3 linked regions of the Homo sapiens genome follow. The protein of the gene in region 1 interacts with the protein of each later gene in a pairwise test. Each region holds a gene or a part of one and is shown in the gene's direction. Other genes may lie near its edges. The genes, in order: KLF15, HNRNPF and NFYC.

Region 1 (3,748 bases):
CTGCTGGAAGCTTCTGAACCCAGAAGGGACCTGATCTGACTCAGGTTTTAACAGGACCATCTTGGCTGTTCTCCAGTTTCTAGCCAGTGGGGCCTCCTCCCTGTGTGCTGAAGGTGCTAACGATGTGTCTTTGCTTCCAAGCTTTTTCTGACCTTTTGCTGCAGCTTTCACCAAGGAGATGGGAGGCACTAGACTGAGAGTATGTGAGGAGTGAAGACCGAGGGCGGGCAGGGCAGATGGAGAAGTGCTGTGGCTATGCCCAATCCAGACCTGCACTGAGACAAAATGAGGAATACAGGCCTCTATCTCTTCTCTTATGAAAATGGACAAATTCCACTGTTCTGCCCAGGCTAGCCAGGGCTGCTGTAATGCCAGAGTGGTCATTCCAACTTCTGTGAACTAGAAAGCCTCTCACCATCCTCAACACAAATGTCCTTAAAGCCCTCTGGCAACGCATTGGTTTGGCTCCTAGTGGCAGCAGCAGCTGAATCCCTGGCACTGACCTGGTGCACAGTGTCCCCAGATCCCTGGTCAAGCAAGCCTAGACCTATAGCATTCCAGAGAGCCTGGAAAGGGTATGGTTAAAAATTCCTGTTCTAGCAATGTCTTCAAGAAGAAGCAGGAGAAAATGCTCCCCACCTCCCAGTGCCAGGAGGGGAGAGGAAGGAAGCTCAGTAGGACAGCTCTGCACAGGTGGCCTGGGGGTGTCTGCAAGATGACCTGGCTCTACCTCTCTACCTGCTCCTTCCCAGCTGTGGGGCTGGGGAGGGCTGGTGCCCTCTCTGAGTCGGTTTCTTCATCTGTAAAGTGCTTGGCTGAGGATCCAGCTGGAGTGTGGATTAAAGGGCACAGCAGGGTGCCTAGCACCGTCAGCCCACGTGTTTTTCTTGGGCAAGCCACTCTGAGCCTTACTCTTCCTGTCTCTAAGCGGGAACCCAAATGCGAGCCAGGATTGCTGCGGACTAAAGCAGTCTACGAACGCTTTTGTAGACTGCGAAGCATTGTTTGGTCTTCAGAAAGGTGCCCCAGAGACAAGGTGTCATTGGTTTCAGGTGGGGGGGGGGGGGGCCGGTCAGCAAACCTCCTTAGTCCTGGAGGGCAGGGTGGCAGCGCAGAGCGCGCGCAATTTCCGGAGGGTAACTGATTGTCCTGCTGAAAGCCCAATACCGTATTTATCCAAAAATACGTCCTTCTAGGCAAGTGATTTATCTGACACTCAGCGGGGGACAGAGCTGCTTGTACCGCGCTGGGGATGAAGGTGGGGACGTGGGCCAGACCGGGCCAGACAGGCTCCCCAGCGCTTCCCGCTCAATCACGCAGACTGCACTTTGGGGCGATCTCAGAGCTTTTCTTAAGTCTTCAGGCCAGTCTCACGTTCTCACCTTGGGAACCGAGCTTTAGAAGCCGGCCCTCGTGGACGCCGCGAGACAGCGGCGAGAGGTGGGAAGCAAGGAGGTGGCTGCGGGCCAGGGACCAGGCAGCGTGTTGGGGGGCGTGCGCGTCTGGCAGCTCCGGGATCCCCGAGCATCCGCCGCTCAAGTCCGGGAGCCGCGCGGGCGGGCCGGGGCGGGGCCAGGGCGGGGCCAGGGCGGGGCGGGACGTGTGACGCGCAGCGCGGGCCAATGGGGCGCGCGCCCGGGGCCGAGCCTCCTGCGAGCCTTCGCGGCGCCCGCTGCGTCACGTGAGCGGCGGGGAGTGAGTGCCCAGCGAGCTGCGGGCGGGCTAGTGCTCCGCCGCAGCGACCCGCGGGCCGGCGGGCGATCGAGCCAGCGCAGGACCCGCGGCTCGGCCCCCGGCCGCCGCCGGACCGAGAGTCTAGCCGCCGCCCCCAGCCCAGCCCGCCCGGCCGCAGGACCGCCGGGGCCTGGCCGCCGGTCCGGCGTGCGCCAAGTTCAGGTGGGAGAGGCGCGGCGGGGCCGGCCGGCCGCGTGGACGCGGCCCCGGGTGATCAGAGGGCTGGCCGGCCTCGGGGCGCGTGGCCGTGCTCCCGCGCAGCTCTCGGAGGCACCGCGCGAGTGCTGGAGGAATGTCGGAGGAGCGGGATGGGCCCCCGCGGAGGTGGGCAGGGGTCGGACTGGCCCGGGGGAGGTGACCCCCCCCGCCCCGGTCGCCCACCAGCACTTTGCTGAGGCCCGCGCCGCCGCCTCGGTGCCTGGCCGGGCGATTCCGTGGCGCGCCTTGCGGGCCGGCCCTCCCATATGGTGGGCACCGGCGCGGCCTGGTGAGAGGAGGGGGAGAGCGGACGCGCTGGCCAGCCCGGGGTTGGGGGGCGGAGGGGCTGGAGACGGAGGGGTTACTGTCGGTCACCGCAGCAGTGTCGGGGGCAAGGGGGGGGCGTGGGACGAGGGCATGGTGCCCAGCGGGCAGCGGTCCAGGACTCTAGAAGGGGTCTGAGCCGGCTCTCTTCATTTCCCACGCACGTTTCCCCTCACCCGCCGGCACCCACGGCGGCTCCACGCGCGAGTCCTTCGCGGACAGCCTCCCGCACAGCCACAGCGGCTGCCGCGCACCACGCCCCGCACACGCAGTCACACGACAGGAACTCACACCCCTTCACGCACACCCGCACCGTTCACGCGTCTCACTCCACGCTGAGTCCCCGTCCGCTCAGACCGAACATTACCAAAGCCATGGCCTGACCGAGGGATGGCGGCGGCGGGGCAGAGAGGCCGTCCCCATCCCATATGGTGGTCCGGTTCACTCTTCCCTCCCCGCCTTGGTGTTACTCATGGAACCCCCCTCTCACGGAGGGCACAGAGGGGCTGTTTTCTCCCACGGCCCTCGGAGGTGACAAAATCAACAATTGTTTGAGAGCCTCAAATCTCCTTCCCCCTGTCCCCCCGGACCAGGTGGCCCCTGGGGAGACCCTGCCGCCCTACAGGTGTGAGGACGCCCGGACTCTGCGACTTTGGGGCCTGCGGGCGGCTCAGGGACCGGAGACTCTTATTTTGAAGGACAGCCCCCGCCGCCACCCCCGTGATTTGCACGCTGACCCAATGGCAAGCCCTTGGCCGGCGCTGGGCTTGTTATCAATTACATGTTGTTCCTGCAGCCGCTGTGTCCCCGGGAGGATAAACAGCAGGCCTGGCCGGGCCAGGGGAGGGGGCGGAGTCCGGCGGCCAGCCGGGGACTGTGCCCGGAACAGCGTGTCCCCTCCCCCTGCACGCAGCCTGCGCCTCTGGCCGCCCCACGTGCTGCTGTGTTTCAGGGGCCGAGCCAGCTCCAGCCCTAGAGTGTCCTCTCTTTAATGCCGGTGCCCTGGGACATCCCAGAGCCCTTTCTGGGTTGTCAGTGCCTGGGTGCTTCCCCCTTGGGACGTTCAGCCCAGCATTAAGACCCTGTTGGCTGACCTGGGCCACCCATTCCTACTCTCCGACCTCCCCCGCTCTCCCCCGCACCTTCCATTCACTCATTCAGCAAATTTTGCCCGGTCCTGTTTTAGACTCTGGGATATGGCCTTGGAGTGAACAGTCAGGACAGCTGATATTCTGATGGGAAGGTAGACAGGGAGGAAAGTTCACAAACACATCACCAAGATAGTTTCCCACAGTAGAAACTGCAGGGAAGAGTATAATATAGGATGATGTAACAGAGTGGGCCTGGAGGCCCCCACAGGGGTGACTTCTGAGCCGAGATCTAACTAAGCAGCTCCCACCTGCAGTGCTGGGGGAAGAGCCAGGGCAGTGGCCCCGGGCTGAGGCTGAAGTGAAGTGAGCACACCTGGACTAGAAGAGAGGCAGTTGGTGGT
Region 2 (3,748 bases), on another chromosome or scaffold:
CTGACCTCAAATGATCTGCCTGCCTTGGCCACCCAAAGTGCTGGGATTACAGGCGTGAGCCACTGCGCTCAACCTAGGTGTCCACCACTATGCTCGGCTAATTTTTGTATTTTTGGTAGAGGCGGGATTTCACCATGTTGGTCAGGCTGGTCTTGAACTCCTGGCTCCGGTTATCCACCCTCCTTGACCTCCTAAAGTGCTGGGATTACAGGCGGTGAGCCACCACACGTGGCCTTGATCATGCAGTTTTAATGGAGGGGAGTGGAAGTGACAGTAGAGGCCTTTTGACAAGATTTTGCTGAACAAATCAACAAGTAGCTAGAGGCAAAGTTGGCACAGGGGAGGTATGACATGATTGGGTAGAACTGAGCATGTTTAATTACCAAGTAGACAGGGCTCAGTGGAGAAAGGGGAAAAGGAAAAAAAGAAGAAAGCATGGCTCCGGGGTATGTGAGGTTGGACCCAGAGCAGAGCTGTTGTTCACGATGTCCGCTGTAAGGGGCCCACTACGTGCTTACAAACTCCTGGACTCTGACTTGACTTCACAAAGTCCACTTCCAAGAGTAATGTCAACCAGCTGGAGAGGAGGTGAGAGTCTGTAAGGCTGCCCCAGACATCTGAAGGGCTTTGGACAAGCAGGGTGCTGGGGTAGGACAGTGGGCGATATTGAGGGCCCGCTTACTCTATGGCTGTTCACTCTGATTTTCTTTTTTTTTTCTTGTGTGGTGGGTTTTTTTTTGGAGTTAGTCTCGCTCCGTCACCCGGGCTGGAGTACAATGGTGCGATCTCCACTCACTGAAAACTCCGCTTCCTGGGTTCAGGTGATTCTCTTGCCTCAGCCTCCGTAGTGGCTGGGACTACAGGCGCCCACCACCACGTCCAGGTAATTTTTTTTTTTTTTTTGAGACAGAGTCTTGCACTGTCGCCCAGGCTGGAGTGCAGTGGTGCGATCTTGGCTTACTGCAACCTCTGCCTCCCAGGTTCAAGCGATGCTCCTGCCTCAGCCTCCCAAGTAGCTGGGACTACAGGTGCCCACCATCACGCCCGGCTAGTTTTTTGTATTTTTAGTCGAGACAGAGGTTTTGTCTATTGGAACTCATGATCTCAAGTGGTCCCACCCACCTCGGCCTCCCAAAGTGCTAGGATTATAGGTGGGAGCCACTGTGCCTGGCCTCACCCTGATTTCTACAGTATTTCACAACTTGGGGGCAGCATTAGCCACCAGAGAACATTTGGGAATGTCTGGAGACATTCGGTTGTCAGAACTGGAGGTGGAGGGTGCTACTGGCATCTAGTGGGCAGAGACCAGGGATGCAGCTAAACATCCTACAGTGCCTGGGCCTGCCTCCACAACACAAAGAACTGTCTGGTCCAAAATGTCAGTAGTCCTGAGGCTGAGAAATTGTAGCTTAGAGGCACCGTTTCGCCTGGCTGTGTGCAGCTGAGCCACTCAGTACATCCATGGAGTAGTCAGATATTTGTTTGGAATCTTCCAGAGCTCTGGTTTTACTGGGCGCGTACAGTTAAGAAGTTCATTGAATGAATTCCATGTATTGTGAGGAAGGAATGTAAAATGATACTTGCTCTAAGCTGGATTATGAAGAATGAGGAGAGAAAGAGGCTGTGTGGATAAGGAAGCCAAGGTCTCTACAAAGGAGGGGGATAGCAGTTGTGGTGGAGGGAGTAGGATGTGATTAGGTGGGGTTTCCTGCAGGGAATGGTGAAATCATTGGAGGTAGGAGTCCAGGAGAAAATGGTTAGTGGATTATGGCTTCATCTCCCCTACCCGGAACGATGGCTGGACCTAAGGCTAGGAACAGAACTCGAGGGAGGCCTTCAGATACTTTTCATGAGTGAGGAGCAAGACCAGGGTATGGTCAAAGACAAAAGGACAGGCGGTGCCTAGCCTGACCCAGTGTTGGGAATGGAATTGCATAAGAAGCCCCCACCTGTAATTGAGCTGTCCCAGACCCATTATCCCAAGAGACACAATACAAACTTGCCCTGACTCTCCAAGGAGGAGCTTCTGAACTGTTAGCACAGAATTCCCTCCGTGGACAGGAGAGGAAGAATCTGCTGTGACCTTGCTCTGCCAGATCAGCATGTTGCAGTGGCCATATGCAGGGGATTTAGATAAGGCCCTGGGGAGGCGGAGACCATTACTTTCTAAGGTGGAGGCTAAACCCCAGGGTTTGTTGCAGACCCAAAGCACAGTTTGAGAATTGGGGATAGGATTATTTATGCCCAATCATTTGCCGTTCAGGATTATTTTATAAAAGTTGATGGAGTTTATGTACATAGTCAATAATTTGAGGTGGGCAATGAGCAATCCAGGTTAGGCTCCCCTTGACTCTCTTCCCAGAGGCTTCCATGTTCCACTCTCATTAGCAAGGGTGACATCTTTTAGTTAGGCTGTATACTTTGAAAGCCCTTGCATTCCAAATCACAGTTCGTGAGTAAATGCCGAGTGTTTGGTCTTGGTGATGTGTTCAGGATATCACATACTGTTCTGTTTCATTTGTGCCATTATGCTTGTTATTGGGAGAGGAGACACATCTTGTTATCTTTATAATCTGGTGTAGACACAGGTAAATTTGAAAGATTTACACAATTATCCTTTTAGACGTTGTCAATTTGAAATGATGAAGCACTGTATGATAATATGTCATTATCTGCAATGGCTACATCAAACTTTAAAATTACTAATTTTCCCTGAAGCTAGTGCAGTTGAGCATTTATTTAGTATGAATTTGCTTTTCCTTTTCTTAAATTACACTTACCTTTACTTTTTGTCTGTTTTTTAAATTGTGGGGTTTTCTTATGGAGCTTTTTTCCCCACATGATGAGCCCATATTTCTTGAAAAGGCCACCAGCTATATCTATTATGCTTGATGTAAAATGACACTTTGAAACATTCGATTTCCAGCTGTGCATGGTGGCTCACGCCAGTAATTCCAGCACTTTGGGCAGCTGAGGTGGGCGGATCACCTGAGGTCAGGAGTTCAAGACCAACCTCGCCAACATGGTGAAATCCCGTATCTCCTAAAAGTATAAAAAATTAGCCGTGCGTGGCGGCTGGTGCATGTAATCCCAGCTACTCAGGAGGCTGAGACAGGAGAATTTCGTGAACCCAGGAGGCGGAGGTTGCAGTGAGCCGAGACAGCACCACTGCACTCCAGCCTGGGCGACAGTGAGACTCTTGTCTCAAAAAAAAAAAAAAAAAAAAAAATTCCATATACTCCTATGCTCTTTTTGAGCGTCACCCTTGACAGTGTTCATATAAAAATACGTCTTTGGCCCCATGATACTGCAGTGTTTTTCTTGCTTGTGACTATGTTATAGACCCTGCTGTCTAGGTCAGCTGCTCCTCTTTCTCAGAAGACTGCCTTCCAGTGTGTGGTTGGCCTTACTCTGAGTTTGGACTTCAGGTGCCATGTACCACCCTGGTGGGAAGGGCATTTCTCAGCCCTCTTGCGATTGCCCTTTCTTCCCGATGCCCTCTTCCAGATCTTCAGCACAAGGCAGCAATTCTGCTATATTTTATGTGAACCTGTGAATCATCTGATCTGGTTTCTCCATTTATTTGCAGTGCACATAACTAAGTCTGCTGGTGAATTTGTCTGCTTGTCTGTATATGTCATCAGTTTGGCCTCATACTTGACTGGTATTTAGTTTGAATTGACAATTTAGGAGCAAAATCATAACTCCATAGACAGTGGAAGCCATTGCTGTCTTGTATCCTGGCAAC
Region 3 (3,748 bases), on another chromosome or scaffold:
CTTGGTGATGAAGGTTGGTGGACTGTTACAAAACAGGTCCTGTGCTGTGTGAGCCCTTTCTGTAGAGCAGTGCTTCTCAAACTTTATTGTCTGTATGAACCACGTGAGGGAGGATCTTCTTAAAATATTGATGCTGATTTAGTAGGTTAGGAACGGAACCTGGGATTCTGTGTTTCTTTTGAGTTCCCAGGTGATACCATTGCTGGTCCAAGGACCTTACTTTGAGTAGCAGGGCCGTAAAACAGTAGTCCTTAACTCTCACTTGGATCATAGTCACAAGGGGAGTTTTCAAAAAACATGATGCCAGTACTCTACCCACTAGAGCAGGGGTCCCCAACCCCTGGGCCACAGACCGGTATGGGTCCATGGCCTGTTAGGAACCTAGGAACTGGGCTGCACAGCAGGAGGTGAGCAGCCAGTAAGCAAGCATTACTGCCTGAGCTCCACCTCCTGTCAGATCAGCAGTGGCATTAGATTCTCAAAGGAATGTGAACCCTATCATGAACTGCGCATGTGAGGGATCTAGGTAGCACACTCCTTATGAGAATCTAATGCCCACCCTGCCCATCTCTGGAAAAATTGTCTTGCACAAAACTGGTTCCTGAGGTTGGGGACCACTGTCCTAGAGTTCCTGATTCAGTTGGTCTCCAGGAGAGAGCTCAGGCATCTTGTTTTTCAAAAGCTTTTCAGGTGATTCTAACCTGCAGCCCCAAGATTGAGAATCATTGATTTCAAAGGGTTGAGAATCTTGACTTGCCAGAGTGCCTGACTGGGTAGGCCTGGAAAAGGTTTCTCTTTATTATTTGAAACTCTGGATGTTCTTCAGTGCAGCCCAAGATCTGTTGACTTTTCTTTGTCTCCAAACTCTCATTGAGTGAATTCAGATTTGAATTTGTCTTGAAATGCAGCAGTTTCAGATGGAAGCATTTTTAACGTAGTTCTTTGGTAGTGGTCAGGAGCATGAGAATGTTCTGAGAGATAATCTGCTCTTCTGCCTTACTGATAGAACTCCCAAAAGTAGGGGGGAGCAGTGTGTGTCAGCTGTTCTTCCAGTTGAATCAGTATCAGGAGAAGGAGTTAAGGAGTTAAATGTTACTCACTTCAGTTACATGGTAGCTAGTGAAGTGGGGAGCATGAATCCAAGTTTCGTGGGCCTCAATCTACTGATTGTAGAGGGCCTCCCTTTTCCAACAAGCTTATGGTAAATCCTTACATGTAACTAGAAGGCTAGGATAGGATTATAGAAAACTGGGTGATTGTCAACAGGGATGAACCATACACACCCCTCAAGATCCACTTTTACACACTGCTTCTTGAGATCTCAAGGTTTCAGGAACATGAAAAAATAGTTTGTCACAAAGAAAAGCTTTGGGAAGGGGATTAAAGCAGAGCTTATTATAAATTTCTGCCTCATTTTACATCTCTGCAAGGCGGGAATGATCTCTTGATCCTTGACTTTTGTTGCTTTTGATTAAAGAAGAGAAATTGAAGGAGTAATAGTTTACTCTTTCAATTTGGGGAAAGAGGTCTTTTTTATCAACTTTGGGCTTTAGTTAAGTAATCATGGAACGTTCTTGTACAAATTATATTTAAAACCAAGCCAAACAAGAGCACACTTGCAAGAGAGCTAAATGTATGATCATCTTGTGCTGTATGTATTAGCCTGGGAGGTTTTCCAAAGGAATGATCATCCCTAGCATTCTCTTTGGCATTTCTATGTAGTGTCATCATCTTCTGTGATATGCCACACAAGAAGGAAGACCAGTGGTTGATTTCTGGGATTAAACTTTTAAAAAAACTCTTTAGGATCTGGCCCCAACCCAGTATCCTCTTTCCTGCTTTTCCCCTCTATACTCAGGTAGTAGATCTAAAACTTAAATAGGCTGTGATTTTTTGTCTCTCTCTCTGTCTTTGTTGTTCTGTCTGAATAACATTCTCATACTTTTTCAACAGGCAAATTCCCAGCATCCCTTAGACACAATTCAGATGTCATCCCCTTTGTGGAACATTTCCCAATCCCTCACTCTCCCTCCAGCCCCACATTGCTAGCTGTCCCTAGCAATATGTCCTTCTTTGTGTCCCCGCAGGGGATCCCTCCCCTCCAGTATTGGGTAGGGGATTATAATGTTTTTATGTGACTATCTCTGACAAACCACAAGCTCTTCAAAGGTAGGAGTAGATGTGTATTTTTTTTCTTTCTTTTTTAAATAGTGATGGGGTCTCACTATGTTGACCAGACTGGTCTCAAACTCCTGGCCTCAAGCGATTCTCCCATCTCAGCCTTCCAGAGTGCTGGGATTACAGGCATGAGCCACCATGCCTGGCCTACATGTGTATTTTTTGCATAGTAGTAGGTATCATACATTTACTATTAGTTGAGTTGCTTGAATCAGTAAATGAAAGAGCAAGGGGAAAAACAAGAATAGAATGAACCTGCGCTACTGTTTCCTTTTGTTGAAATTTTAATAAACTGAACTTCTAAGTCTCTGTTACTCCAGGGTTAGTTTTAGTAGAGGGTTCATGGAAAATGTTGATACCTAATTTGGAAAAGGAAAAGATGAAAAATTGGTGTTTGAAGTTTGTAGAGCAGAGTGGTAGCCAAGCAGCTTGTTGGGTTTGCATGGAAAAATTAGATGTCTTGGTGTACATTTTATCCTAATAGATTCTCTTCTTTCTATAATCATAAAATAGGTTCTGGGAAGACTGTTGATGTTTTTCCAAAATACCTTTTTTTGACATATATTTGAGATTTTCTGTTGGTCTTGCAAAAGAAAGTTCACTTATGCTTGTTAATTACATCAAATCTGAAATAATATATGCTCCTTCCATAATGTGATGATGCAAATTCCCAGGTGAGCATATTAGGTTTAGTGAGTCACATTTCAGACCACTTATAGAATCAATCATTTGACACCTAGTCCCAGTAGAGATTTTGCTGATTTTAGCTAATATCTGCCTTTGCACCTTCCTCTTCATTGCAGCTCTGAAACTCAAAATTGATTTTTTTCCTAGAATTGCATCCATCATTGGGCATGTGTTTAAATACCAGTAGTTTCAAAATAAAACAAAAAAGGGCTTAAGTCTCAAATTATTGAGTAGTGCTGATCAAAAAAGCCCTTTCCTAAACTATATCCACAGTGAAGTTATATGGTCCTCCCCCACTCCAGGCTTGTTAAGAAAAAATAACACAGCTGTTCCTAAAAGGCAGCTGACAAATTCACCCTCATCCTTTTTCTATACTCCTCTACCCCCACTTGAAACAAATTTTGGAGACAAGGCCATTGCTACTGTGATGAGAAAGGAGCTCTCCTCCCCAGTTTCTGTTGTCAGGTTAGTGCAAATGTCAGAAATGGCCACTATCAGTTGTAAAGAACTGTGGATCACTGTGGTCAAGTGCCCCGGCGTTGCTGTTAGTTTGGTCACTGAATGGAAGAAAGAACTGGCAGTTTAGAGGAATACCCCTGAGACAGAAATCTCATTTTAATCTGCATATTGCAGACTGGTAAACTTACTTGGAAAAAAAAAGAAGGCGCTCATAATGTCCCTCTATGTTGTGCTGACGAAAAAAAAAAAAAAACAGATATTGCTTGGGGCTGTGTTTCATGAGAGCACTGTTAGAGGCCATCCTAAGCTTTTTCTAAAGCCCATTAATTCTTTGAAGACCTGCATATGTTAAGTAAAGAAGAATTTTGCTCTGGAGCTTGTATTTTCTTCATTTCATCTGTACCTTCTCTCCCGACATACGCTT

The links.
Region 2: the proteins of KLF15 (region 1) and HNRNPF interact in binary tests that used the Homo sapiens proteins (3 or more experiments, as listed by UniProt).
Region 3: the proteins of KLF15 (region 1) and NFYC interact in binary tests that used the Homo sapiens proteins (3 or more experiments, as listed by UniProt).

The regions. Positions count from the first base shown.
Region 1 is NC_000003.12:126,355,385-126,359,132, reverse strand, and holds the start of KLF15 (Krueppel-like factor 15), read left to right. Parts: upstream 1-1,724; 5' UTR 1,725-1,896; exon of another isoform or gene 1,897-2,026; coding exon of another isoform or gene 2,027-2,058; intron 2,059-3,748. UniProt on the Homo sapiens protein: Transcriptional regulator that binds to the GA element of the CLCNKA promoter. Binds to the KCNIP2 promoter and regulates KCNIP2 circadian expression in the heart. Is a repressor of CCN2 expression, involved in the control of cardiac fibrosis.
Region 2 is NC_000010.11:43,388,448-43,392,195, reverse strand, and holds part of HNRNPF (heterogeneous nuclear ribonucleoprotein F), read left to right. Parts: intron 1-3,748.
Region 3 is NC_000001.11:40,743,683-40,747,430, forward strand, and holds part of NFYC (nuclear transcription factor Y subunit gamma), read left to right. Parts: intron 1-3,748. UniProt on the Homo sapiens protein: Component of the sequence-specific heterotrimeric transcription factor (NF-Y) which specifically recognizes a 5'-CCAAT-3' box motif found in the promoters of its target genes.